Regions from separate parts of the Homo sapiens genome. Here all the other regions are linked to region 5. Evidence: fine-mapped expression QTL. A gene starts in region 5. Each other region holds a variant in brackets. All regions are shown on one strand. Distances are between the middles of the regions.

What was found.
Region 1: its variant is fine-mapped to the expression of DHX34 in nucleus accumbens (GTEx, PIP above 0.99).
Region 2: its variant is fine-mapped to the expression of DHX34 in whole blood (GTEx, PIP 0.94).
Region 3: its variant is fine-mapped to the expression of DHX34 in cerebral cortex (GTEx, PIP 0.99).
Region 4: its variant is fine-mapped to the expression of DHX34 in whole blood (TOPMed, PIP above 0.99). The same link has a PIP of 0.9 or more in cerebellar hemisphere.

What each region holds. Positions count from the first base shown.
Region 1 is chr19:47,392,107-47,397,206 of GRCh38, forward strand. No RefSeq gene overlaps it. Among named protein-coding and RNA genes, the nearest start is that of MEIS3, 25 kb to the right of the region's middle. RefSeq lists enhancers at 202-848, 849-1,496. The variant A/G (reference allele first, on the strand shown) is at 2,715.
Region 2 is chr19:47,506,600-47,511,699 of GRCh38, forward strand. All of the region lies in intron 1 of NAPA (NSF attachment protein alpha), which reads right to left. Among named protein-coding and RNA genes, the nearest start is that of NAPA, 5.9 kb to the right of the region's middle. The variant G/A (reference allele first, on the strand shown) is at 3,197.
Region 3 is chr19:47,574,401-47,579,500 of GRCh38, forward strand. No RefSeq gene overlaps it. Among named protein-coding and RNA genes, the nearest start is that of ZNF541, 3.8 kb to the left of the region's middle. RefSeq lists an enhancer at 3,475-3,554. The variant C/T (reference allele first, on the strand shown) is at 2,894.
Region 4 is chr19:47,378,635-47,383,734 of GRCh38, forward strand. It overlaps DHX34 (DExH-box helicase 34), which reads left to right. Exons shown (of 17, transcript NM_014681.6): 14 at 1,076-1,351; 15 at 2,182-2,358; 16 at 2,552-2,690; 17 at 3,346-4,070. The coding sequence ends at 3,479. Among named protein-coding and RNA genes, the nearest start is that of DHX34, 32 kb to the left of the region's middle. The variant C/T (reference allele first, on the strand shown) is at 2,572.
Region 5 is chr19:47,346,715-47,351,814 of GRCh38, forward strand. It overlaps DHX34 (DExH-box helicase 34), which reads left to right and starts at 2,601. Exons shown (of 17, transcript NM_014681.6): 1 at 2,601-2,638. It overlaps C5AR2 (complement C5a receptor 2), which reads left to right. Exons shown (of 2, transcript NM_001271749.2): 2 at 1-615. RefSeq lists an enhancer at 2,441-3,345.

The sequences.
Region 1 (5,100 bases), 45 kb after region 5:
GCCCAGGCTAGTCTCGAACTCCTGGCCTTAAGAGATTCTCCCACCTGGGCCTCCCAATGTGTTGGGATTACTGGCATGAACCACCGCCCGGCCAAGTCATAGCACTCTGGTGGCTGCTCTGACTCTGCTGTCCAAGCGGTAACCACCCACCTTGCCTTTGGTCATTAAGTTCTGTCACTTGGTCCCTGCCACCCTGAGATCCAATTATCCCCATTGGAGTCAGGCTTTCCGATTCTTGCTCTGTCCACCCAGGCTGGAGTGCAGTGGCGTAATCTCAGCTCACTGCAACCTCCGCCTCCCAGGTTCAAGCAATTCTCCTGCCTCAGCCTCCTGAGTAGCCAGGGATTACAGGCACCCGCCACCACACCCAGCTAATTGTTTTGTATTTTTAGTAGAGATGGGGTTTCATCTTGTTGGCCAGGCTGGTCTCGAACCCCTGACCTCAGTGATCCGCCTGCCTTGGCCTCCCAAAGTGCAGAGATTACAGGCGAGAGCCACCGTGCCCACCATAATTTTTGTATTTGTAAAGAGCCAGGATTTCACCATGTTGGCCAGGCTGGTCTTGAACTCCTGATTTCAGGTGATCCACCCACTTCGGCCTCCCAAACTCCCACTGTAAGTTCTGACCTAGGAGGAGCGCGATCGCAACACAACAATGCCGTGGACACAGACACGGTTGATAGAGACCAGCTTGTCACACAATCCCAACCCTAGTTCAGTCTTGTCAGGCCTCTGAGCCCAAGTCAAGCCATCACATCCCCTGTGACTTGCACGTATACGCCCAGGTGGCCTGAAGTAACTGAAGAATCACACAACAAGTGAATATGCCCTGCCCCACCTTAACTGATGACATTCCACCACAAAAGAATTGAAAATAGCTTGTTCCTGCCTTAACTGATGACACTATCTTGTGAAATTCCTTCTCCTGGCTCATCCTGGCTCAAAAGCTCCCCTACTGAGCACCTTGTGACCCCCCACTCCTGCCCGCCAGAGAACAACCCCCCTTTTTCCTTTACCTACCCAAATCCTATAAAACGGCCCCACCCTTATCTCCCTTCACTGACTCTCTTTTCCGACTCAGCCCTCCTGCACCCAGGTGAAATAAACATCTTTATTGCTCACACAAAGCCTGTTTGGTGGTCTCTTCACATGGACGCGCATAAAATTTGGTACCATGACTCGGATCAGGGGACCTCCCTTGGGAGATCAATCCCCTGTCTTCCTGCTCTTTGCTCCGTGAGAAAAGATCCACCTGTGACCTCAGGTCCTCAGACCCACCAGCCCAAGAAACATTTCACCAATTTCAAATCCGGTAAGCGGCCTCTTTTTACTCTCTTCTCCAACCTCCCTCACTATCCCTCAACCTCTTTCTCCTTTCAATCTTGGCACCACACTTCAATCTCTCCCTTCTCTTAATTTCAATTCCTTTCATTTTCTGGTAGAGACAAAGGAGACACGTTTTATCTGTGGACCCAAAACTCCGGTGCCGGTCACGGACTGGGAAGGCAGCCTTCCCTTGGTGTTTAATCATTGCAGGGACACCTCTCTGATTATTCACCCAGGTTTCAGAGGTGTCAGACCGCGCAGGGATGCCTGCCTTGGTCTTTCACCCTTAGCGGCAAGTCCCGCTTTTCTGGGGGAGGGGCAAGTACCCCAACCCCTTCTGTGTCTCTACCCCTTCTCCACCTTTTCTAGGGGGCAAGAACCCCCAATCCCTTATTTCCACATCCCGACCCCTTTCCCACTTTTCTGGAGGGTAAGAACCCCCGAACCCCTTCCCTCCGTGTCTCTATGCTCTCTTTTCTCTGGGCTTGCCTCCTTCACTATGGGCAACCTTCCACCCTCCATTCCTCCTTCTTCTCCCTTAGCCTGTGTTCTCAAGAACTTAAAACCTCTTCAACTCACACCTGACCTAAAACCTAAACCCCTTGTTTTCTTCTGCAACACCGCTTGGCCCCAATACAAACTGGGCAATGGCTCTAAATGGCCAGAAAACAGCACTTTCGATTTCTCCATCCTACAAGACCTAAATATTTTTTGTCAAAAAATGGGCAAATGGTCTGAGGTGCCTGACGTCCAGGTATTCTTTTACACATCGGTCCCTTTCTAGTCTCTGTTCCCAATGCAACTCGTCCCAAATCCTCCTTCTTTCCCTCCCGCCTGTCCCCTCAGTCCCAACCCCAAGCGTCGCTGAGTCTTTCCAGTCTTCCTTTTCTACAGACCCATCTGACCTCTCCCCTCCTCGCCAGGCCGAGCTAAGTCCCAATTCTTCCTCAGCCTCCGCTCCTCCACCCGATAATCCTTCTGTCGTCCTCACACCCAGGGTGTCCTCACACCCTGTCCAGCTTACAGTTTAGTTCCACGACTAGCTCTTCCCCACCTGCCCAACAATTTCCTCTTAGAGAGGTGGCTGGAGCTGAAGGCACAGTCAGGGTACATGTACGTTTTTCTCTATCAGACCTCTCTCAGGTGAGTCAGCGTTTAGGCTCTTTCTCATCAGACCCCACTAAACATATACAGGAATTCCGATATCTAACTCTGTCCTACAACTTAACCTGGAGTGACTTAATATCATCCTGACTTCTGCCCTCTCCCCAGATGAGTGGGAAAGAGTTTTTCTCTAGCCCAATCTCACGCTGATAACCGCCGGCTTCATGAGCCAGACCTCCAGGAAGGCAGTAGAGCAGTTCCCCGAGAGGGTCCCCAATGGAACT[A/G]TCAGGCAAATTCCCCAGGTATAGCTAGGTGAGATTACATGGTTTCCTACCTAGTTGAAGGGCTTAAAAAGGCAGCTTACAAAGCTGTTAATTATGACAAACTTAAAGAAACTACCCAAGGTAAAGAGGAAAACCCAGCCCAGTTCGTGGCCCACTTAGCAGCAACACTTAGACGCTATACCGCCCTAGACCCAGAAGGGCCAGAAGGCCGCCTTATTCTTAATATGCATTTTATCACTCAGTCCACTCCTGACATTAGGAAAAAACTTCAAAAATTAGAATCTGGCCCTCAAACCCCACAACAGGAATTAAGCAACCTCGCCTTCAAGGTGTACAATAATAGAGAGGAAGCAGCCAGATGGCAACGCATTTCTGAGTTACAATTACTTGTCTCTGCTGTGAGACAAAACCCAGCCATACCTCCAGCTACAAGAACTTCAAAATGCCTAAGCAGCAGCAGTCAAGCATTCCTACAAGACTTCCTCCATCAGGATCTTGCTTCAAGTGCCAGAAATCTGGCCACTGGGCCAAGGAATGCCCACAGCCCAGGATTCCTTCCAAGCCATGTCCCATCTGTGCAGGGACCCACTGGAAGGCAGACTGCCCAGCTCACCCAGGAGCCACTCCTAGAGCCCCTAAAGCTCTGGCCCAAGGCTCTCTGACTGCTTCCCAGATCTTCTCGGCTTAGCGGCTGAAGACTGATGCTGCCCGATCGCCTCGGAAGCCCCCTAGACCATCACAGACGCCAAGCTTCATGCAACTCTCACAGTGGAAGGTAAGTCCGTCCCCTTCTTAATCAATATGGAGGCCACCCACTCCACATTACCTTATTTTCAAGGGCCTGTTTCCCTGCCACCATAACTGTTGTGGGTATTGACAGCCAGGCTTCTAAACCTTTTAAAACTCCCCAACTCTGGTGCCAACTTAGACGATACTCTTTAAAGCACTCCTTTTAGTTATCCCCACCTGCCCAGTTCCCTTATTAGGCCGAGATATTTTAACCAAATTATCTGCTTCCCTGACTGTTCCTGGACTACAGCTGCATCTCATTGCCGCCCTTCTTCCCAACCCAAAGCCTCCTTCGCGTCTTCCTCTTGTGTCCCACCTTAACCCACAAGTATAAGATACCTCTACTCCTTCCCTGGCAACCGATCACATGCCCATCACCATCCCATTAAAACCTAATCACCCTTACCCCGCTCAACGCCAATATCCCATCCCACAGCACGCTTTAAAAGGATTAAAACTTGTTATCACTCTCCTGCTACAGCATGGCCTTTTAAAGCCTACAAACTCCCCTTACAATTCCCCCATTTCACCTGTCCTAAAACCAGACAAGCCTTACAGGTTAGTTCAGGATCTGTGCCTTATCAACCAAATTGTTTTGCCTATCCACCCCATGGTGCCAAACCCATATACTCTCCTATCCTCAATACCTCCCTCCTCAACCCATTATTCTGTTCTGGATCTCAAACATGCTTTCTTTACTCTTCCTTTGCACCCATCATCCCAGCCTCTCTTCGCTTTCACTTGGACTGACCCTGACACCCATCAGGCTCAGCAAACTACCTGGGCTGTACTGCCGCAAGGCTTCACAGACAGCCCCCATTACTTCAGTCAAGCCCAAATTTCATCCTCATCTGTTACCTATCTCAGCATAATTATCATAAAAACACAGGTGCTCTCCCTGCTGATCGTGTCCAATTAATCTCCCAAACCTCAATCCCTTATAAAACAACTCCTTTCCTTCCTAGGCATGGTTAGTGTGGTCAGAATTCTTACACAAGAGCCAGGACCGCACCCTGTAGCCTTTCTGTCCAAACAACTTGACCTTACTGTTTTAGCCTAGCCCTCATGTCTGCGTGCAGCGGCTGCCGCTGCTTTAATACTTTTAGAGGCCCTAAAAATCACAAACTATGCTCAACTCACTCTCTACATTTCTCATAACTTCCAAAATCTATTTTCTTCCTCATACCTGACGCATGTACTTTCTGCTCCCCGGCTCCTTCAGCTGCACTCACTCTTAAGTCCCACAATTACCATTGTTCCTGGCCCGGACTTCAATCTGGCCTCCCACATTATTCCTGATACCACACCTGACCCCCATGACTGTATCTCTCTGATCCACCTGATATTCACCCCATTTCCCCATATTTCCTTCTTTCCTGTTCCTCACTCTGATCACGCTTGATTTACTGATGGCAGTTCCACCAGGCCTAATCGCCACACACCAGCAAAGGCAGGCTATGCTATAGTACAAGCCACTAGCCCGCCTCTTAGAACCTCTCATTTTCTTTCCATCGTGGAAATCTGTCCTCAAGGAAATCACTTCTCAGTGTTCCATCTGCTGTTCTACTACTCCTCAGGGATTATTCAGGCCCCCTCC
Region 2 (5,100 bases), 160 kb after region 5:
GCCCACAGCGGGCAATCAACAATGAGCAGAGTCAGCCCAGCCGGGTTTATTTCAGGACGGACACAAAGCCTACCAGCTGCCCGGGCTGAAACTCTGTGATCCCAGGCTAAGCACAGCCAACCCTGCACGGGGTCAATGATTCTGTGGGGTGGAAAGGCCAGAGGGATTAACACCTGCTCAGGCCCCAGGCTTGCCTCCTTCTTCCCCTGCACCCCGCGGTCTTGCCCATTACCATGGCCAGGGGATGACAGGAGATCTCCAGGGTCCCATCCTCTTCTTTTAGAAATGGGAGTGAAGTCCCCAAAGGGGGAAAGTGACGTGCCTAGGTTCCAGTGGAAGATCCTGAAGAAGCCATTCACATACACATTTATTCACCTGGGGAACAGGTATCCGAGCATTTATTACGTGCCAGGAGATAACAACAGTACACGAAAGGAAAATCTAGCTGGGCCTCCTCTCCTGAGGGCCTGGGTGGCAGCGCATGTGACAGCTGACTGTCCCTCCCCCACTGACCTCCCCCAAGCTGCCTCTGCTTCACTCCTCCCATCCCACGGCTCTGAGCCACTCCGGGAATAGAGGGAACTGGTTTGGGCTGCCTGATGCAGGGCTGTCTATAATTACCCGCTCAGCTTTGCTCTCTCCCCCTCCAAGGCGGAGGAAGGAGTCTCAGGTCTCCCAAACACAGCCACCAACCTCAGGGACTGCCATATGGAAGGCTGGGCACTGCCAGGAATACACAGATGCCTGATGGGACCTGGGCCAGGGGGTTGTGCAGGGCAGAGTCTTAGCCCCCTCCTTCCTTCCTCCATCCACCAGGCACTTCCTGGCTGCCAGAAATACACCATGCCCTGAGACCCACCACCTGCAGCTCCCGAAGGACCTCACGAGGCAGGGTGGACAAAGTCAGGCCCCCATTTCGGGTCCTGGACTCACTCTATCTCTCTTGCCTCTGTGGAAGCCACAGCCACAGGCCTACGGTTTCCTCCTCAGACTTAAGGCCCACTGCCCCAAGTCTCCAGTCAGCACCCTCAGTGGGGAAGGTGTCCTAGGGCCCGTCACATGCCTGTGTCTTCCCTGTAAGCCCACCTCCTGCACGGCTCTCGAGACCATGTGCCTTAATCACGGCTGGCGCATGGCGTTCCCTGCCTCCCAGGCACTCCCCTGGAAGGAGCCCACAGCTCCTCACGAGAGCCCTTTGGGTGCTGCCCTTGCTTTACAGGCGAGGAAGCTGGGGCTCAGAGAGGGCGGAGGGCTTGTCCAAGCTTACCCTGCCAGGAAGCAGCAGGGCTTGGAAAGAGGACTGGGGCCCTGGGGATCCAGTCCTGCCCTTGCCTCTCACTCAGTGATCAGGAAGGCTTCCTTCCCCATGCCCAAGGCTCCTTGGGAAAATAAGGAGGGAGGACAAGGTCCCTGCCTGCCCCCACCCCTCCTCTAGATTAAAGAAGCCAGGGAGCCTGTACTGCCTAGGCTTCCCTCATCTCACGAGCAGAGGCTGCTCTCTGCTGGGGCTGCGTGGAGCATCCTCTAGGCAAAGGAGTATGAATTAAGCCAGCCCCCTACCGAGCCTGCCAGTAACAAGCCAACAGGCAGAAGGAACGTCAGAAAAAGTTAAGGCTGCCTGTGGTGCAGGGTCCACCCTGGCACAGGGAGCCGGGGGCCACCAGCCCTGCTAGTCCACTGACTGCACTGGAGCTGGGAGCTGCCAGAGGCTCAGCATCCTGAAGGCACCGCCACCAGTATCACCTGGAAGCGGGAAACCACCAGCTGCCTCCCGCCACTCTGCAGTGGGCCTTGCCTGACCAAGCAGAGTATGAGTTCCTGCAGGGCGGGGCCTGAGCCCAGCTCTGCTTTCCCATCTCTCCACAAGCCCCAGTTAACAACGGTGAAAGAATAAAGTGTCACAGGCTAACTGCCCAGCTCTGAAATCGCCACAGGACCCTCTTGTGACATGCCTGTCTGGGCAAAGACAAGGGGTAGAAAGAGAATGACTTTGGGGTGGCGAGACCTGGGCTGAAGTCCGTTTCAGGTACTTTGCTAAGTGTTCGACCTGGGGCTAGTTATCCCTGAGGCTTTTTTTTTTTAAATAAGAGATGGGGTCTCCCTGTGTTGCCTACACTGGTCTCGAACTCCTGGGCTCAAGCAATCCTCCTGCCTCTGCTCCCAAAGTGCTGAGATTCCATTCTTTATCTACAAAATGGCAGCATGTCTGGCCACAGTGGCTCACACCTACAATCCCAGGGCTTTGGGAGGCCGAAGCAGGAGGGTTGCTTGATCTCGAGTTTGAGACCAGCCTGGGCAACACAGTGAGACCCCAACTCTACTAAAAATTAGCCAGGCATGGTGGCATATGCCTACAGTCCCAGCTACTTGGGAAGCTGAGGTGAGAGGATCACTTGAGCCCAGGAGGTTGAGACTGCAATGAGCTATGATCGCGCCACTGCCCTCCAGCCTGGGCAACAGAACAAGACCCTGTCTCTCAAAAAATGAAAAATGAAATAAAATGGAGACAATGAATCTGGCCTGGGAGGAGTCTTTGTGAGGATTAGAAATGACACATAGTCAATACTTGGCACAGAGCGCAGAATGGAAAAGGTGCTCAATGGTTGCTATTACACAAAGGAAGAGAAATACGCTCAAAGGGGTGCCTGCCACCCAGGAATGGGAATTCTAGAGAGTTTCTTGTGGTGGTAAAAATAAAATAAAATAAAATAAAATAAAATAAAATAAAATAAAATAAAATAAAATAAAATAAATAAAATAAAATAAAATAAAATAAATGCTGACAGTAGTCAGACAGGCCTGGCCTCAGCGCCAGCTCATCGTGTGCCAGCCTGCGTTTCCTTATGTGTAACTAGGCATAAGACTCCACACCTTGCAGGGCTGCTGAAGCACGAGCAATCTTGCAGGCAGCACCCCACGGCGTGCCCAGCAGAGAGCTGGCCACACCACGGGCGTTCAGTAAACGAGAGCATCCCTCTCATCAGGCCCCGCAGAGGACCGATTCCAGGCACGCTTCCCTACTTCAGAATAGCAGCATGGGCTTCATCTCCATCCCAGATTAGCTAAGTAATGCTCCTCCTTCGGCTTCCAGAGTCCTGGCCTCCCATGCCCCACCCCTTACTGCACAATGCTCAAAATACATACAGGCCCACGGCCCTTCGAGATGAGCTCAGAGCCAGGATCTCACCTGCCACAC[G/A]GCACACAGCCTGGCAGGCGCCCTGTTTCTTATTTTCTTATACGGATGCCCTCCTGCACCCCAACGGGATTACATTTCACCACAGACCAAGGGCGAATGTACTTCCTTTTTCTTAAAAGGTGTTCTCAAAGACCCTTGCCTCTCAGTAGCCCCATCCCAAAAAGGAGACGGAAATGTTTGTATGGCCAGGCAGCAAAGTCCTATCCATCAGGAAAGCCAGGAACTCTCGGATTCCCCAGAAACCTTGTGTGCCCTCAGGAAAGACTCCACTCTGAGACTGGGCAAGAGATGCCAAGTTTTCAGTTGTGGATCTTGGCAGCTGGCAGGGCACTGTGATTCACCAGGGTGCCCACTGGAAATGGCGCCGGGGTTTCTGCACGCTCTGCAGAGGAAGGCGGTCTGGAGAGAAATCTGGAAGCTCGTGCCCACACCAGTCTCAGCCAAGGCCCTGGGCAGGCCCTGTACAGACAAGCTGGCCCTCCCAGGGTCCCGCCGTTATTGCCTACAGGTAGTTCAAACAGGAACTGATTTGTCAAGATCTGATCTTAGGAATGCACTGTTTGTATACAGAACACCCTCTGCCACCTATTTCTCCAGCACTTCTAGCTCAACTTCCAATGACAATACCTACTAATAAAGATGACAGTGAGCCCTTAATAAACATTAGCAGAGCCAGGCAACGTGCTCCCACCACTTCCCACACATCGTCTCATTTATCCTTAAAACCACCTGAGGAAACAGTTACCATGATTTTCATTTCACAGATGAAGAAACTCCCTCTACACGTTTGTATCCAAGAGGAAGGAAGTTTTTATTTTGGCTATTTTGGGGACAGGGGAGGTGGCTGGGAAACATCAGGGATGAGGAAAAGCCCCAGGGAACAGAGCCGCCATTCAGAACCTGCAGGATCCCCAAACGGCACAGCAGGCACTCTGGATTCCCCAGGAGACACGCAGCAGGGAGGAGGAACTAGTGTGCCTGGACTCAGCCATCCCCTTCTGCTGCTGGCTCACTGTGCTGTAGTTAGGAAGTCTCCGTCTTTTTGCTTCCAGAGCAGAAGTTTGAGCTGCGCCCCCATCACCAAGGGGAGGAACAGGTATGGCTTTGAGCTTCTCCTAACTGGCTGGTGCTGTCGCCTTCAGTGGCTGCTGGTGCATCAAAGCCCCCTAGCGTCTGGCAGCCCAGAAATAATGAAGAGCAAGGGTGGCATCTGAGCACCAAGGCAGGCGACAGCACAGACACCCATCGCCTTGCGTCCCAGGTGCGGGCTCTCTGACTTGCCCTTTGACAGGGGCAGAGGCCCCTCAATGTGGGATGCTGTCATTGCTGGGGTTCCCAAAGGGGAAGGGAGAGGCACCAAGGACAAGCTGAGCCGCAACGCTCCCTTCTCCAGTCCCGGCAGCTACCAAGGACCTTGAATAAAGGTGGGTTATGAAATGTTGAACACAAGCAAACCCAGATCAGAGAGGAGGAGGTGCCTGAGTGATTCCCGCCCGCCAAGCAGGTCCTCCCAAGCTGGCCTCTGGCTGTGCTCCCAGCTCCCAGGCACACAAGCTCCGGTCAGGCCAGCCTCCCATCCTCCCTGCCCTCTGCCCTAACCTCACTCATACTCCCACAGCACCAGGTCAGCTCCTCTGGGAGCTGGAAGGAACTGAGATGAACACACCAGCTCTTTTTTTCACATATTTGGAGAAAACAGCCATGGGAGGACAGTTAAGAGGGTGGCAGCTCTCCAACACACCTAGTTTGCCAACATCCTTCCTAAATGTAGTGCCCAGAGATGGTCATGAACCTTGAGGAGAAACTACCGTGGTAGCACAGCAAAGGGGCTAAGTGAGAAGGCTCTGGAATCACACAGAACTGGGTTTGAATGCCACTTCTCCCACTTACTGTGGGGCTGGGCA
Region 3 (5,100 bases), 230 kb after region 5:
AAGGGGTTTGAACTGTCCTGCAACTGAGGCAGATAATTCATTCCTTAGAAACGGAGTGCTGAAGATCTGTGGAGAATGAGAGCAGATTAGTGGTTGCCCGGGGTGGAAAGGGGCATCGCGGATCTTATCTGGGTAATGGAAATATTCTAAAACTGAGCTATGGGCCAGGCGTGGTGGCTCACGCCTGTAATCCCAGCTCTTTGGGAGGCCAAGGTAGGAGGATCCCTTGAGCCTAGGAGTTTGAGACCAACCTGGGCAACCTAGTGAAACCCTGTCTCTAAAAAAAAAAAAAAAAAAAAATTAACTGGAGATGGTGGCATGCGCCTGTAGTCCCAGCTACTTGGGAGGCTGAGGCAGGAGGATCGCTTGAGCCTGGGAGTCCAAGGCTGCAGTGAGCTATATGATCAGGCCATTGCACCCCAGACTGGGGGATAGAGCGAGACTCTGATGGGGGAAAAAAAGGGTTATGGTGATGGTTGCACAACTCAGTAAATTTCTAAAAATCAGTAAGTATACACTTAAGTGAGTGACTTTTATGTAAATTATACCTCAAAGTTTTTTTTTTTTTTAATTGATTATTGGGGGAGGAAACAGAGGAAAGAAGAGGGCCTGTCATCTTGCTTTAGGATCCCTTCATTTAGCAAGTTTTTATTGGGTCTCTGTTCTAGGTGCTCAGATATAGTGTCTGGGTCAAACAGACATTCCTCTCCTCCTGGAACTTATGTTTTAGAGCAGTGCTGTTCAGTAGTAATAAAATGCAAACTTCAAGCACCAGCCACTTATGTAATTTTACATTTTCTAGTAGCCATGTTTAAAAGGAACAAAATGTAAAGAAGGCAGGTGTGGCGGCTGGCACTTGTAGCCCAGCTACTTGTGAGGCTGAGACAGGAGGATCACTTGAACCCAAGAGTTGGAGACTGCAGTGAGCTATGGCCCTGTCTGTGTAGAGCCACTGCACCAGCCTGGGCAACATAGTGGGACCCATTCTCTTAAAAAAAAAAAAAAATGGCTTGGGACGGGTGTGGTGGTTCACACCTGTAATCTCAACACTTTGAGAGGCTGAGGCAGGAGGATTGCTTGAGTTCAGGAGGTCAAGACCAGCCTGGGCAACACACCCAAACCTAAAAATCAAATAAATAAAAGTAAATAATAAAATAAAAGAGAAAGAAACACAAGTGAAATTAATTTGGTAATATTTAATCCCAAATATTTCAACACATTATCAGTATAAAAACTAAGAGATAATTTACACTTTTGGGGCTGTCTTTAAAACCCCACATATACAGTATTTTACATTCACGGGACATCTCAATTCAGACCAGCCACATTTCCAGGGCTCCATGGAACCTTGTAGCGAGTGGCTCTGGTACTGACAGCATACCTCTACAGGGGGACAAGCAAATGCATTTACTTTTTTTGTTGTATTTTTTTGATACAGGGTCTCACTATGTCACCTAGGCTGAAGTGCATTGTTGTAATCATGCCTCGCTGCATCCTTGACTTCCTGGGCCCAAGCTATTATACCACCTCAGCCTCCTGAGTAGCTGGTACTACAGGCCTGCACCACCACACCCAGCTAATTTTTTGTATTTTTAGTAGAGACAGGGTTTTGCCATGTTGGCCAGGCTGGTTTTGAACTCCTAGGCTCAAGCAGTCTTCCTGCCTTGGCCTCCCAACATGCTGGGATTACAGGAGTGAGCCACCGTGCCTGGCTGCAAATACATTTATAATGCAGTATGTTATACCTTGAAGAAAAACAAAGGAAAGAGGATGGGGTCAGAGGGTATTGTTTTATACAGGTCAGTAAAGGCTTCTCTGGTGAGATTGCATTGAGCAGAGATCTGAAGGAAGTAAGGAAGGGTCCTATGAAAATATCTGGGGGAAGAAGAGAGGGAACAGCACGTGCACAGGCACTGAGGCAGGAAGATGTGGAACCCTTTTGAAAGACAGCAGAGAGGCCAGGCATGGTGGCTTATGCTTGTAATCCCAGCAATTTGGGGGGCCCAGGTAGGCTGATCACTTGAGCCCAGGAGTTCGAGACCAGCCTGGCCAACATGTTGAAACCCCATCTCTACTAAAAATACAAAAAATTATCTGGGCATGGTGGTGCACACCTGTAGTCCCAGCTACTCGGGAGGCTGAGGCATGAGAATCTCTTGAACCTGGGAGGCAGCGGTTGCAGTGAGCCGAGATCACGCCATTGTGCTCCATCCTTGGTAACAGAGTGAGACTCTGTCTCAAAAAAAAAAAAAAAATCAGAAGAAGAGAGACCAGTGTGGCCAGAACCACGTGAGTGAAGAAACTAGGGGCAGATGGCATAGGGACTTACAGGTCATGCTAAGGCAGGAATTAAACTCCTGGAAACAATTTCAGAGGGTTCTTCCTTTATTTAGCACACTTTTTGTTTTGTGGGGTTTTTTGTTTGTTTCTTTTATTTTCTTTCTTTTTTTCTTTTTTCTTTTTCTTCTTTTTTTTCTTTTGAGACAGAGTCGCGCTCTGTAACCCAGGCTGGAGTGCAGTGGCACCATCTCGGCTCAATGCAACCTCTGTCTCCTGGGTTCAAGTGATTCTCCTGCCTCAGCCTTCTAAGTACCTGGGATTACAGGCTCGTGCCACCACGCCCAGCTAATTTTTTGTATTTTTAGTAGAGACGGGGTTCCACCATGTTAGCCAGGATGGTCTCCATCTCCTGACCTCGTGATCCACCCGCCTCAGCTCCCAAAGTGCTAGGATTACAGGTGAGAGCCACTGTGCCTGGCCTTCTTTTCTTTTTCTTGTTTTCTTTTTTTTTTTCGCTTATTTAGCACACATTTTAAAAATGCTTTGTTTCAGCCATGTAATCTCTCTTCTTGATGGAGGAAATAAGGATCCTAGCCACTGGACAGATGAGAAT[C/T]TAGTTAAAAAACAGGACTTAAGCTCCTGAAATAAATTAGCATCTTCTGTCATTGATAGACATTGAACACTTCATGGACACAGAAGATAAATGCAACACATAAACAAAAAATTAGCATTAGCCAAGCATGCTTGTAATCCCAGCACTTTGGGAGGCCAAGGCAGGTGGATCACCTGAGGTCAGGAGTTCGAGACCAGCCTGGCCAACATGGTGAAACGTCCATCTCCACTAAAAATACAAAACTTAGCCAGGTGTGCTGGTGCGTGCCTGTAATCCCAGCTACGCAGGAAGTTGAGACAGGAGAATTGCTTGAACCTGGGAGGTTGAGTCTGCAGTGAGCCGAGATCGCACCATTGCACTCCAGGCTGGGCAACAGAGCGAGACTCTGTCTCAAATAAAAAAAAGCATTTAGCATTTATTTTAAAGGCCTACAAATTAAGGTGACAACCTAATAAAAAAAAAGAATATAAGATTTGAAGAGGCACTTCATACAAGAGGAAACATGAAGTGAGGACTAACCACAACAACAAGAGAATGCAAATTAAAACCAAAGATACCGCAGCACACCTACCACTTCGGTGAATCAAAAAACATTTTTTTTTTTCTGTTTGCTGAAGCAAGACGAACTGAGTATACAGGACTAGTGACAGGTAAAATTGGTAGAACCACACTGACAAACCCAGGGGTTAACTCTAGAAAACTTCTTGATCATGTGCGCCAAGAGATGCAACAGAAGAACAAGCAGCAATGTTTGTAATAGCAAAAAAAAGAACAGAAAAGAAAGGAAAGAAACAGATTGGATCCTGGATTCTGGATTGAATAATCCTGGAACAAGATAAATAAATAAATAAATAAATAGGCCAGGCATGGTGGCTCACGCCTGTAATCCCAGCCCTGTGGGAGGCCGAGGCAGGTGGATAACTTGAGGTCGAGAATTTGAGACCATCCTGGTCAACATGGTGAAACCCCATCTCTACTAAAAATATAAAAATTAGCTGGGCATGGTGGTAGGCACCTGTAATCCAGCTAAGGCTTAGGAGGCTGAGGCAGGAGAATCGCTTGAATTTGGGAGGTGGAAGTTGCTGTCAGTGAGCTGAGATGGTGCCACTGCACTCCAGCCTGGGAAACAGAGTGACAGTGACTTCATCTAAAAAAAAAAAAAAAGACATTACTTAAAAAACTAGAGAAATCTCCAACAAAGGCCAGGCATCTGTAATTCCAGCACTTTGGGACCCCAAGGCAGGAGGATCACTTGAGCTCAGGAGTTCAAGACCACCCTGGGCAACTTGGTGAGATCCTGTCTCTACGAAAAAATTTTAAAAGTTACCCAAGCATAGTAGCACACACCTGTGGTCCCAGCTACTCCACAGGCTAAGGCGAGAGGATTGCTTTAGCTCAGGACTGCATTCCTATCTGGTTAACAGAGCAAGACTGTCTCAAAAAAAAAAAAGAAAAAATCTCAACAAAGATTGGAATTTAGTTAATAGTAATGTATCCACTTTTTGGGGTTTTTTTTTTTTTTTGAGACAGAGTCTCGCTCTGTCGCCCAGGCTGGAGTGCAGTGGCGCAATCTCAGCTTGCTGTAAGCTCCGCCTCCCGGGTTCACGCCATTCTCCTGCCTCAGCCTCCCGAGTAGCTGGGACTACAGGCGCCCGACACCACGCCCAGCTAATTTTTGTATTTTTAGTAGATGGGGTTTCACCGTGTTAGTCAAGATGGTCTCGATCTCCTGACCTCGTGATCTGCCGGCCTCGGCCTCCCAAATGCTGGGATTACAGGCGTGAGCCACCACGCCCAGCCTTTTTTTTTTTTGAGATGGAGTCTGGCTCTGTCTCCCAGGCTGCAGTGCAATAGCATGATCTTGACTCACTGCAACCACCGCCTCCCAGGTTCTGCCTCAGCCTCCAGAGTAGCTGGGATTACAGGCGCCCGTCACCACACCCAACTAATTTTTATACTTTTAGTAGAGACGGAGTTTCACCATGTTGGCCAGGGTGGTCTAGAACTCATCCTGACCTCAGGTGATCCGCCCGCCTCAGCCTCCCAAAGTGCTGAAATTACAGGCATGAACCATTGCACCCCGCCTGTTTTGTGTGTGTGTGTTTTTTTTTTTTTTTTTTTTGAGACAGGGTCTCATTCTGTCGCCCAGGCTGCAGTGCAGTGGTGCCATCTGGGCTCACTGCAATCTCCGCCTCCCAGGTTCAAGC
Region 4 (5,100 bases), 32 kb after region 5:
GCCTGGGCAACATAGGGAGACTCTATCTATCTCTACAAAAAATTTTAAAAAGTTAGCTGGGCGTGGTGTTGTGTGCCTGTAATCCCAGCTACTCGGGAGGCTGAGGCAGGAGGATTGCTTGAGCCTGGGAGATTGAGGCTGCAGTGAGCTGTGATTGTTGACACTGCACTCCAGCCTGGGTGACAGAGTGAGACACTGTCTCAAAAAATAATAAGCCGGGCATGGTGGCTCACGCCTATAATCCCGGCACTTTGGGAGGCCGAGGTGTGTGGATCAGTTGAGGCCAGGAGTTTGGGACCAGCCTAGCCAATGTGGTGAAACCCCATCTCTACTAAAAATACAAAAATTAGCCGGGTGGGTGGCGCGTGCCTGTAATCCCAGCTACTAGGGAGGCTGAGGCAGGAAAATCGCTTGAACCTGGGAGGTGGAGGTTGCAGTGAGCCAAGATTGCGCCATTGCATTCCAGCCTGGGCAACAGAGTGAGACTCATCTCAAATAAATAAATAAATTAATAATAATAATAATAAGAAGAAGAAGATGGAGAAACTTCACATTCACATAAGCAGGCAGAACAGTATATGGAGCCCTCCTGTACCATCCCCGGTCCCCAAACCATCCACGCATGGCCAGTCCTGCCCTTTCCTCTGCCCTGGCCCCAGCCCTGAGGATTTTCCCCAACATCTTATGAGCCACAGCACTGGTAATTACAGCGCTGACTTCCGTCCTCACAGAGGAGCGTGTGCTCAGGGTCTGGGCTCTCCCTGCACGTCGTGTGTGTCTGAGTGCCTGCTGTCCCTCTGCCACCCTGCCTGAGAATGCAGCTGTCTCTCTCCCAGCACGCTCCCATCTGCCGCCCCGCCACCCCAGCCCCCTTCCCTGACTCAGCGGCTGCCTTGTTCATGCCGTATCCCCAGCACCCGAAGGGGTGCCTGGTACAGCGGGTAGATGGCGGGTAGGTGGATGCCTCACATAGACAGGGCTGGTGGGTGGGCAGGAGCCCAGCCGGGCAGGGCCTGTCTCCAATAGCGCCCTGCCCCTCCCACCTACTCCCTGTCTTCTGCCCCCTCTCTTTCAGTCCCTCCTGCTTTTTAGCCGGTCTTTGGACACCAATGGTGACTGCTCCCGCCTGGTGGCCGATGGCTGGCTGGAGCTGCAGCTAGCAGACAGTGAAAGTGCCATCCGACTCCTGGCGGCTTCCCTGCGGCTCCGTGCCCGCTGGGAAAGTGCCCTGGACCGGCAGCTGGCGCACCAGGCCCAGCAGCAGCTGGAGGAGGAGGAGGAGGATACGCCAGTCAGCCCCAAGGAGGTGGCCACCCTGAGCAAGGAACTCCTGCAATTCACGGCATCCAAGGTACCCTCCACCAGGGTGCCCGTGCCTCCCTATGGCCAGAAGGGGCATCCGTCACTGGGCTTGAGCCTCGGGAAGGCCTGGCTTCCCATTCACTCCACATGGGCACATTTGGGGGTTTTCAGGCCACAGAGGTTCAGTCACTTACACAAGGTCACTCCACTGGTCTGGGTGGAGCTAGGATTTGATCCCAGGAGCCTGGTTCCAGAGGCCACACTACCCACTGCTGCCTTGTTTACTAAGCACCTTCTGCAAGCGTGGCTGATCCCCTCTTGCTAACAGTAAAGGACAGGCAGGGTGTGAGAGGGAAGCCGTAGACGTCTGCTTGTGGATGGGAAGAACTGAACTGAGCAGACTTGAAACCAGCCCCTGACTCTTAGGTGGGGAGTGGAAATTGCTCGTGGTTCTACTTCATGTGGGTGGGGTGGGGAGAAGGGTACAATCCAGGCTGACTTCCTGGAGTAGAAGGGCTTGAGGACAAAGGAGCAGGAACCCAGTGAGCCATGGAGAGGGGACCAAGGCTGACATGCTAGGAGGAGGAGGGGGGAGGTGGCCAGACTTGAAGGTTAGACTCAAGGTCTGAATGGGGTCCCACCAGTGACAGGGGCAGAAGAGGGGCCTGGGGAGGGCAATTTAGATGGGGGTGGGTTATCAGGTATATTCTAGACAGACCCCTGGTCATGTGTGTCTGCAGCCAAATTGTGATTGGTGTAAGCACTTGGCTCCCGTAACTGCAAAGCCCGAGGGAGGGCTTCAGGCACAGCTGGATCCAGGTGCTTTGGCGGCATCTCCCTGAGTCTGTCTCTCTCCATTTCCTGTCTCTCCTTCCTTAGATTCCTTACAGCCTCCGGCGGCTCACAGGGCTAGAAGTCCAGAACATGTATGTGGGACCCCAGACCATCCCAGCCACCCCCCATCTTCCTGGCCTCTTTGGCAGCTCCACCCTGTCCCCCCACCCCACAAAGGGGGGCTACGCAGTCACTGACTTCCTCACCTACAACTGCCTCACGGTAAGCATGAACCCTCCTTCCCTGAAGGTGGGATTTCAGGAAGACCCCACCACCCCGTTTCACCTTAGTCCAGGGACATAGTTCCCAAGTGGGGCCCGTGGCCCTGAGGGCTTCTGGGAAGGGTCCCGGGGGGGCACTTGGGTGGTGGGTGGCACTTGGCGGGGGCCCAGCCCTGACAGCTGGCCTGCCACAGAATGACACAGACCTGTACAG[C/T]GACTGTCTCCGAACCTTCTGGACCTGCCCCCACTGTGGCCTGCATGCGCCCCTCACGCCCCTGGAGCGCATCGCCCATGAGAACACCTGCCCCCAGGCCCCACAGGATGGGCCCCCAGGTAAGCACAGGACTGTGGGGACCCGGCCACCTCTGCCCAGCCGTCTGCCCATCCCATGATGGTCTCCTGTGCGTGTGAGCACTTGCTAGAGCTTCGAGGACTGACGACCTCCACCCGCTGGCCCTGGCTGGTGCCACACACAGGCCTTGTCCTGAAGATCAGGAGCCCAAGGCAGGGAGAGCCTGGAGCGCCACCTCTTTCTGTCTGCCTGTCCCCTGTGGTGTCTCTGTGTTGCTGTCTTTGTCTCTGTTTCTGTCTCTCTGTGGCTATGTCTCTTGTTATTTTTCTCTGTCCTGCAGCTATCTCTGCCTTGGTCACCTCCACCCTGTTGTCACCCAGGGATGCCACACACTGGGGTTCAGTGGGGGAGATAGCACTGGGGCCACATGCCTCCATCCCCGGCTGGCTGTGTCTGCCTCTCAGTCTCCATGTCTCTCCTTGTGTCTTTCTCTCTGTCTCTCTCACTGGCAGGGATGCGGAGTAAAGACAGACCTGTGTATTTTTATTAATCTGGGAGGGCTTCCTGGAGGAGGCAAAACTGGGTTCTCCAAAGGCCAGGAGAGAACCTGAGCCCCACAGGTGCCTGGCATTTGGGTGCAGGTAGACCTGTGCACTGGAACACGCCCCTCACAGCCTCCTCCTTTTCCTCCCTTAGGGGCTGAGGAAGCTGCCCTCGAAACCCTCCAGAAGACATCTGTCCTGCAGAGGCCCTACCACTGCGAGGCCTGCGGGAAGGACTTCCTCTTTACACCCACAGAGGTGCTGCGCCACCGGAAGCAGCACGTGTGAGCTGGGCCAGGAGCCCTGCCCACCTCCGTGCAGCTGACCTGCCCTCCAGCCCAGGACTAGGGGCAGGACTCTTGCCTGAACCCCCAGCCTGGGCTTAGCCCTGTGGTCCTGTCCCAGTGCAGAGGGCCTGGAGCACGGATTGTGAATAAAGCCTCACATGCTGATACACACTGTTAGGCCTGCACCTGCCCATCCAGAAAGCAGCAGCTGCCTTGTTAGTCCTCCCCAGGGTCTAGCTTTCCTTCTTCCTGCTGCAGGGTGCTGCCTGAGGGGTCCTGGGTAGGAGGGGCGTTAGAGCCAGCAGGGACCTCCCATGTCTCCAGATTCCAGGTGCAGGTTCTTAGCACCTCCGCAGCCGCTCTCTCTTGAGTCCATCCTCAGTCTCTCCTACCCCTTGAAGTAGGGGGACCCTGAATTTGCCCATCCACCTGGGTCACTTTGAGAGTTGTGCAGGGGGGCTGGGAGCACTGGTGTTCACGTGGGACCACAGGCTGCACCATAAGACCCACTCACAATAAAAAAATAAAAGGCCGAGCCGGGCATGGTTGCTCACTCCCGTAATAAAAAAATAAAAGAACAGGCTGAGCCGGGCATGGTTGCTCACTCCCGTAATCCCAGCACTTTGGGAGGCTGAGGCGGGTGGATCGCCTGAGGTCAGGAGTTCGAGACCAGCCTGGCCAACATAGTGAAACCCTGTCTCTACTAGAAATACAAAAACTTAGCTGGGTGTGGTGGTGGGCATCTTTAATCCCAGCTACTGGGGAGGCTGAGGCAGGGGAATCACTTGAACCTGGGAGGCAGAGGTTGCAATGAGCTGAGATCATGCCATTGCACTCCAGCCTGGGCGACAAGAGTGAAACTCCATCTCAAAAAAAAAAAAAAAAAAATCAGGCTGAGGCAGGTGGTTTGCCTGAGCTCAGGAGTTTGAGACCAGCCTGGGCAACACGGTGAAACCCCATCTCTATTAAAATACAAAAAATTAGCTGGGCGTGGCAGCGTGTGCCTGTAATCCCAGCTATTCAGGAGGCTGAGACAGGAGAATTGCTAGAACCCAGGAGGCGGAGGTTGCTTGTGAGCCGAGATCGTGCCACTGCACTCCAGCCTGGGTGACAGAGCGAGACTCCATCTCTAAAAGAAAAAAAGAAAATGAAAAGAACAATAAAATCACTCAGGAGAAAAAGAAGGCACGGCATAGGAATGGAAGGAGGACAACCTGTAGGTCCTACAGATGCGAAAAGGAGAAGAGAATACGATAAACAACGTGCCACACAGAAATTCACTCATTTGAAATGGAAAAAATTATTGAAAGACACTAGCTACCCAAAGCTCATTCAGGAAGAAATAGATAACCGGAACAACTCTATTAAGGAAATGTAATTCATAGTTAACAAAGAGAACAGGCTCAGATGGGCTCCCTGGTGACGTCTACCAAACATGGAAATGATACTCGCCCACACCCACTTGGCCACAGCATAGGGGAGGACGCCTCCTGACTGATGTTATGAGGTCAGCATTATCCTGCTGCTAAAAGCAGGCTATGACAATGCAAGAAAAGAAAACTCTAAGCCTTATGAACATAGACAAAAACCCTAAATAGGAGTTCAGCACATCATATTTAGCA
Region 5 (5,100 bases):
ATAGTAAGAAAGAAGGAAAGACACAAAGACAGAAAGAAGGAAGGAAAGAAAGCAAGCTGTTTTCCCCTGCCTTGCCCCTGCTCACCTTTGAATTCTTTTCTGGGCAAAGCCAAGAACCCTCGTGGGCTAAAACCCCGCTTTGGGGCTTAAAGTTTGCAAAATCCTCCCATTAATCTATTGGGACCAGTTGCCACTTAGGAGCATTCTTTGATAACTTTTACAAAACATCTTTTGTGGTTTTTGAAATGTTTTCATTTTGTAGATCATTAGCCCTTCTTTTTTGAACTGGAATACATTTCACGGGAATTTTCAAATTTAAGTCTGTGCAATGTTACATAAAATACCTTTGATTATTAAAAGCCATCTGTTTTGCTATAACTTCCCTTTTTTGTTCTAAAGTTTGTCTATTTCTGCTATTTGTTTTTTTACCATAGAAATATTGATTTCCTTAAGTTTTCAAAGAACCAAGTTATTAATAATTTCTCTAAGAACTAGTCTCAAGCTTGCTATACAATCCTATGGTTGATAGACTGTGGCTTTCTTGTTGATTTCCATTTGTTGTTCATTTCCTCCAATTTTCCTTTTTTAAAAATTATAATTATTGTTTGGATTATTTATTTATTTATTTATTTGTTTGTTTGTTTATTTGAGACAGAGTTTCTCCTTGTCGCCCAGGCTAGAGTGCAATGATGCGATGTTGGCTCACTGCAACCTCCACCTCCTGGGTTCAAGCGATTCTCTTGCCTCAGCCTCCCGAGAAGCTGGGATTACAGGTGTCCGTCATCATGCCTGGCTAATTTTTTATATTTTTAGTAGAGACGGGATTTCATCATGTTGGCTTAGCTGGTCTCGAACTCCTGACCTCAGGTAATCCACCTGCCTCGGCCTCCCAAAGTGCTGGGATTACAGGCGTGAGCCACCGCACCTGGCCTTGTTTGGAAATTTTAAGCAGAATGCTTAGTCCATTTATTCTTCTTCTTTTGATAATAATGTATGAATTGGCTTCTCTATCTCTAAGTTGTTTTCCAGAGGCTTGATAATTATATCCAACGTTCCACTTGACATCCCCAGTTGATGTCCAATGCATAACTCAAACAATATGCTGAAAACAGATCTTCGGATTTTCTCTCTAGCCTCTCTCCCACGTCTTCCTGATGGTAGTAGATGGTGACTCCATATTTCCAAATGCTCAGGCCAAAAACTTTAGAGTCCTTCTTTTTTTTAGACATAGAACTTTTTTCTGGCCAGGCACGGTGGCTCATGCCTGTAATCCCAGCACTTTGGGAGGCCGAGGTGGGCGGATCACGAGGTCAGGAGATCGAGACCATCCTGGCTAACACAGTGAAACCCCGTCTCTACTAAAAATACAAAAAATTAGCCGGGCGTGGTGGCGGGCGCCTGTAGTCCCAGCTATGCGGGAGGCTCAGGCAGGAGAATGGCGGGAACCTGGGAGGCGGAGCCTGCAGTGGGCCGAGATCGCGCCACCGCACTCCAACCTGGGCGACAGCGAGACTCCGTCTCAGAAAAAAAAAACAACAACACTTTTTTCTTTTTTTGAGACAGTCTGGCTCTGTCACCCAGGCTGGAGTGCGGTGGTACCATCATGGCTCACTGCAGCCTCAGTCTCTCAGCCTCCTAGGTTCAATCGATCCTCCCACCTCAGCCTCTTGAGTAGCTGGGACTACAGGCACACACTACCATATCCGACTAACTTTTGTATTTTTTTGTAGAAACAGGGGTTGGCCATATTGCCCAGGCTGGTGTGGAACGCCTGACCTCAGGTGATCCACCTACCCCGGCCTCTCAAACTGTTGGGATTACAGGCGTGAGCCGCCGTGCCCAGCTGTTTCTTCTTTCAGTTAATAAAAGAGAGGGTGCATTGCTGGCTAATGAGATTGTTTCTATACTTGGGGGTCTTCCTGAATGTGTGTGATTGAGTTTATTGCAGAGAAAGGTAACAGAAAATGGGGTTGTAGAAAGAAAAGAGGTAGAGGCTGAGTGAGATGCCCCACATCTGTAATCTCAGTGCTTTGGGAGGCCAAGGCGGGCGGATCACTTGAGATCAGGAGCTGGAGACCAGCCTGGCCCAAATCGTGAAACCTCGTCTCTACTAAAAATACAAAAATCAGCCAGGTGTAGTGGTGTGCGCCTGTAATCCCAGCTACTCGAGAGGCTGAGGCAGGAGAATGGTTTGAACTTGGGAGGCGGAGATTGCAATGAGGTGAGATAACGCCACTGCACTCTAGCCTGGGAGACAGTGAGACTATGTCTCAAAAGAAAAAAAAAAGTTCCTGGGCCCCAGACCAGCTCTCTCTTTGGGTTAAAACCCCGGCGTCCCGGAGCTGAGGCGCACGTGGCTATGCTTGGGGAGGAGAGGGCGGGGCCGGGGAGGAGGCGCTTGCAAGTCTGTACCGCAATGCCTCTACTGGCCTCTAGAGGGCGCAATCACTCGAGGCTCCGCCCCAAGCGAGGCGGGGCGGAAGCGTGCTGTGCACAGGCGCAAGATGGGTCTTGGGCAGCCCAGAGCTTCCGATTGGCTCTTCTGTGGTGGCGGGGCGGGGTCAGAACGAGATGGCTGTGTGCGCAGGCGCAAGACTAGCGCTCTTGGGACCGGAAGTTAAGGCGTTCGCGGCGTGTGGTAAGTGAGGGGGGCGGGACGGGTGTACCGGGTTGTGGCGGCGATGGCTGTCGGAGTTGGGCCGCTTGGGGGTAGTTTGGGGTGCGAGTCCAGGGGCGAGGGAAGTCTCGAGATGAGGAGAAATGTAGGAGGCAGCCGAAGGGCCGGCAAACGCGGACAGAGATGGCACCTGAGCGTCCCTGGGAGAACCTGGGCGACAGGCCAGAGACCGAAAGAAATGGAGGCACGAAAAGAAGCTTCGAGAAACTGAGGGACTGAAAGACGAGGGTGTTGGGAGAGGAGGGAAGCTGAAAACTAGAGAGCGTGGGCGAGAGTGCCGATGGGTTCCAGCGAGAGTCTTAGAGCCCACGAGGCCGAGAGGCGTGGTCGCCCATGAACTTGGGGAGTGGAGGGAAAAGTCGGAAACTGATCGTGGACACTAGAAACAGAAAAAATGGAATTTAGATGGAGAAACGAGACACTGAATCACGGGGGAGACCGAGAGATACGGAAGGATGGAGACAGTTGAAATAGGAAGAACCCCACAAAAGCTGGAGATAATGGAGAACGATGCTGAGAAATGGAAAAGCGAGGGAGTGGAGCCCGAACCCCTGGATTTGAGTGGCTCATGTAACACTCGGCTACTCACTTAGCCTCTCTATTGCTCAGTAAAATAGGGGGTGATCATAGTGCCTGACAGTCGTGAGAAAAGTGTGTGTGTGTATGTACATAGGTGTGGGATAGGAATAGATCATGCAGATAGGATAGGTCTGTGTGTTAATGTGAGTAAGTAAGCATGAGCTATTACTAAAGCTTCTGATATTGGGAGATAAAGTATTAGATGGGGAAATGGAGAGAGGTGGTGATGGAGAGTGAATACTGGAAGGACAAAAGGGAGGAAAAAAAGATTCAAACAGAAAATGAGAAAGGGCGTGGTGACTCACTCCTGTCATCCACAGCACTTTGGGAGGCTGCGGTGGGAGGATCACTTGAGCTTGGGAGGTCGAGGCTGCTGTACGCCGTGATTGTGCCACTGCACTTCAGGCTGGGTGACAGAGTGAGACCCTGTTTCAAAAAAACAAAAATGAATTTTTTTTTTTTTTTTTTGAGATGGAGTTTCGCTCTTGTTGCCCAGGCTGGAGTGCAGTGGTGCGATCTTGGCTCACTGCAACCTCTGCCTCCTGGGTTCAAGCGAGTCTCCTGCCTCAGCCTCCAGAGTAGCTGGGATTACAGGCAGGTGCCACCACCCTGGCTAATTTTGTATTTTTAGTAGAGACGGGATTTTTCCATGTTCGTCAGGCTGGTCTCGCACTCCCGACCTCAGGTGATCTGCCTGCCTCAGCCTCCCAAAGTGCTGGGATTATAGGCGTGAGCCACCATGCCCGGCCTGAAAAAGCATTTTTTTTTTAATGAGAAAGATGGAGAAAGTCAAATGGAGAACTGAAGAGAGATGGAGAAAGGAAGAGTTGGATTACAGAGAAAAATCAGACTACAGAATGACTCATAAGTGAAGAGAGATGCGAGCTGACTAGGACAGGGAAGAGAGATGAGGGTGATGATGAACAAGACGGACTGAAAAAGAGACAGAGGCCTGAAGATGGAGTGGAGAGAGATGGAGGGGACAGAGGGGGAAACAAACCCACTGAAGGCCATGAGCCCAGGGCAAATAGGCCAAGAGACCAAAAGATGGTCAGAGACACAGTTATACAGAAACTAGAAGATGCAGACAATCTAGAAGCCAAAAAAGATAGATACCTTGAGAGGAGCGGGATGCTGTCAGTGGGGCCCAGCATGCATAAGCAGTTTCTAGCCTCAGAAGAATGCTCTCATTTTCTTTTTCTTTTTTTTTTTTTTTTTTTTTTTTTGAGACAGAGTCTCGCTCTGTTGCCCAGGCTGGAGTGCAGTGGCTCAGTCTTGGCTTCCTGCAAGCTCTGCCTCCAGGGTTCGAGTGATTCTCCTGCCTCAGCCTCCCGAGTCGCTGGGACTACCCGAGTAGCCAGGTGCCCGCCACCACACCTGGCTAATTTTTTTTCTCCAGCCTGGGTGACAGAGCAAGACTCCATCTCAAAACAAAAAAGACTCCAACTGTAAGCAAAAAGGCATTTTCTGGTGTAGCTGAGAAGTGGGGGGTTGAAGGGAACTAAGCTTCAAGACCTAAATGATGTTGCCAAGCTTCTCTTCCTCTCCCTCTTTCACCTCTCCCTGTGGTGCAGTGACCATTCTTGTGCCTGTATCTAGTTATTTCTCTAGGATAGATTTTAGGAAAGACTCTGTCATGTTCCAGAGCTACCACAAAGAGCTCCAGGCTTATATCAAACTTGCCTGATTATGATGGATAAAATGAGAGCTTTTCTGTCCTAGCAACCGAGTGTAAATTCCACAAAAGGGCCCTGATTGGCCCTTCTTGGATCATGTGTCCGCTTCTCAGGCCAATCCTTGGTTAGAGGGGGAGTAGACTACTAAGACTGGCCAGGTCTTTGTTA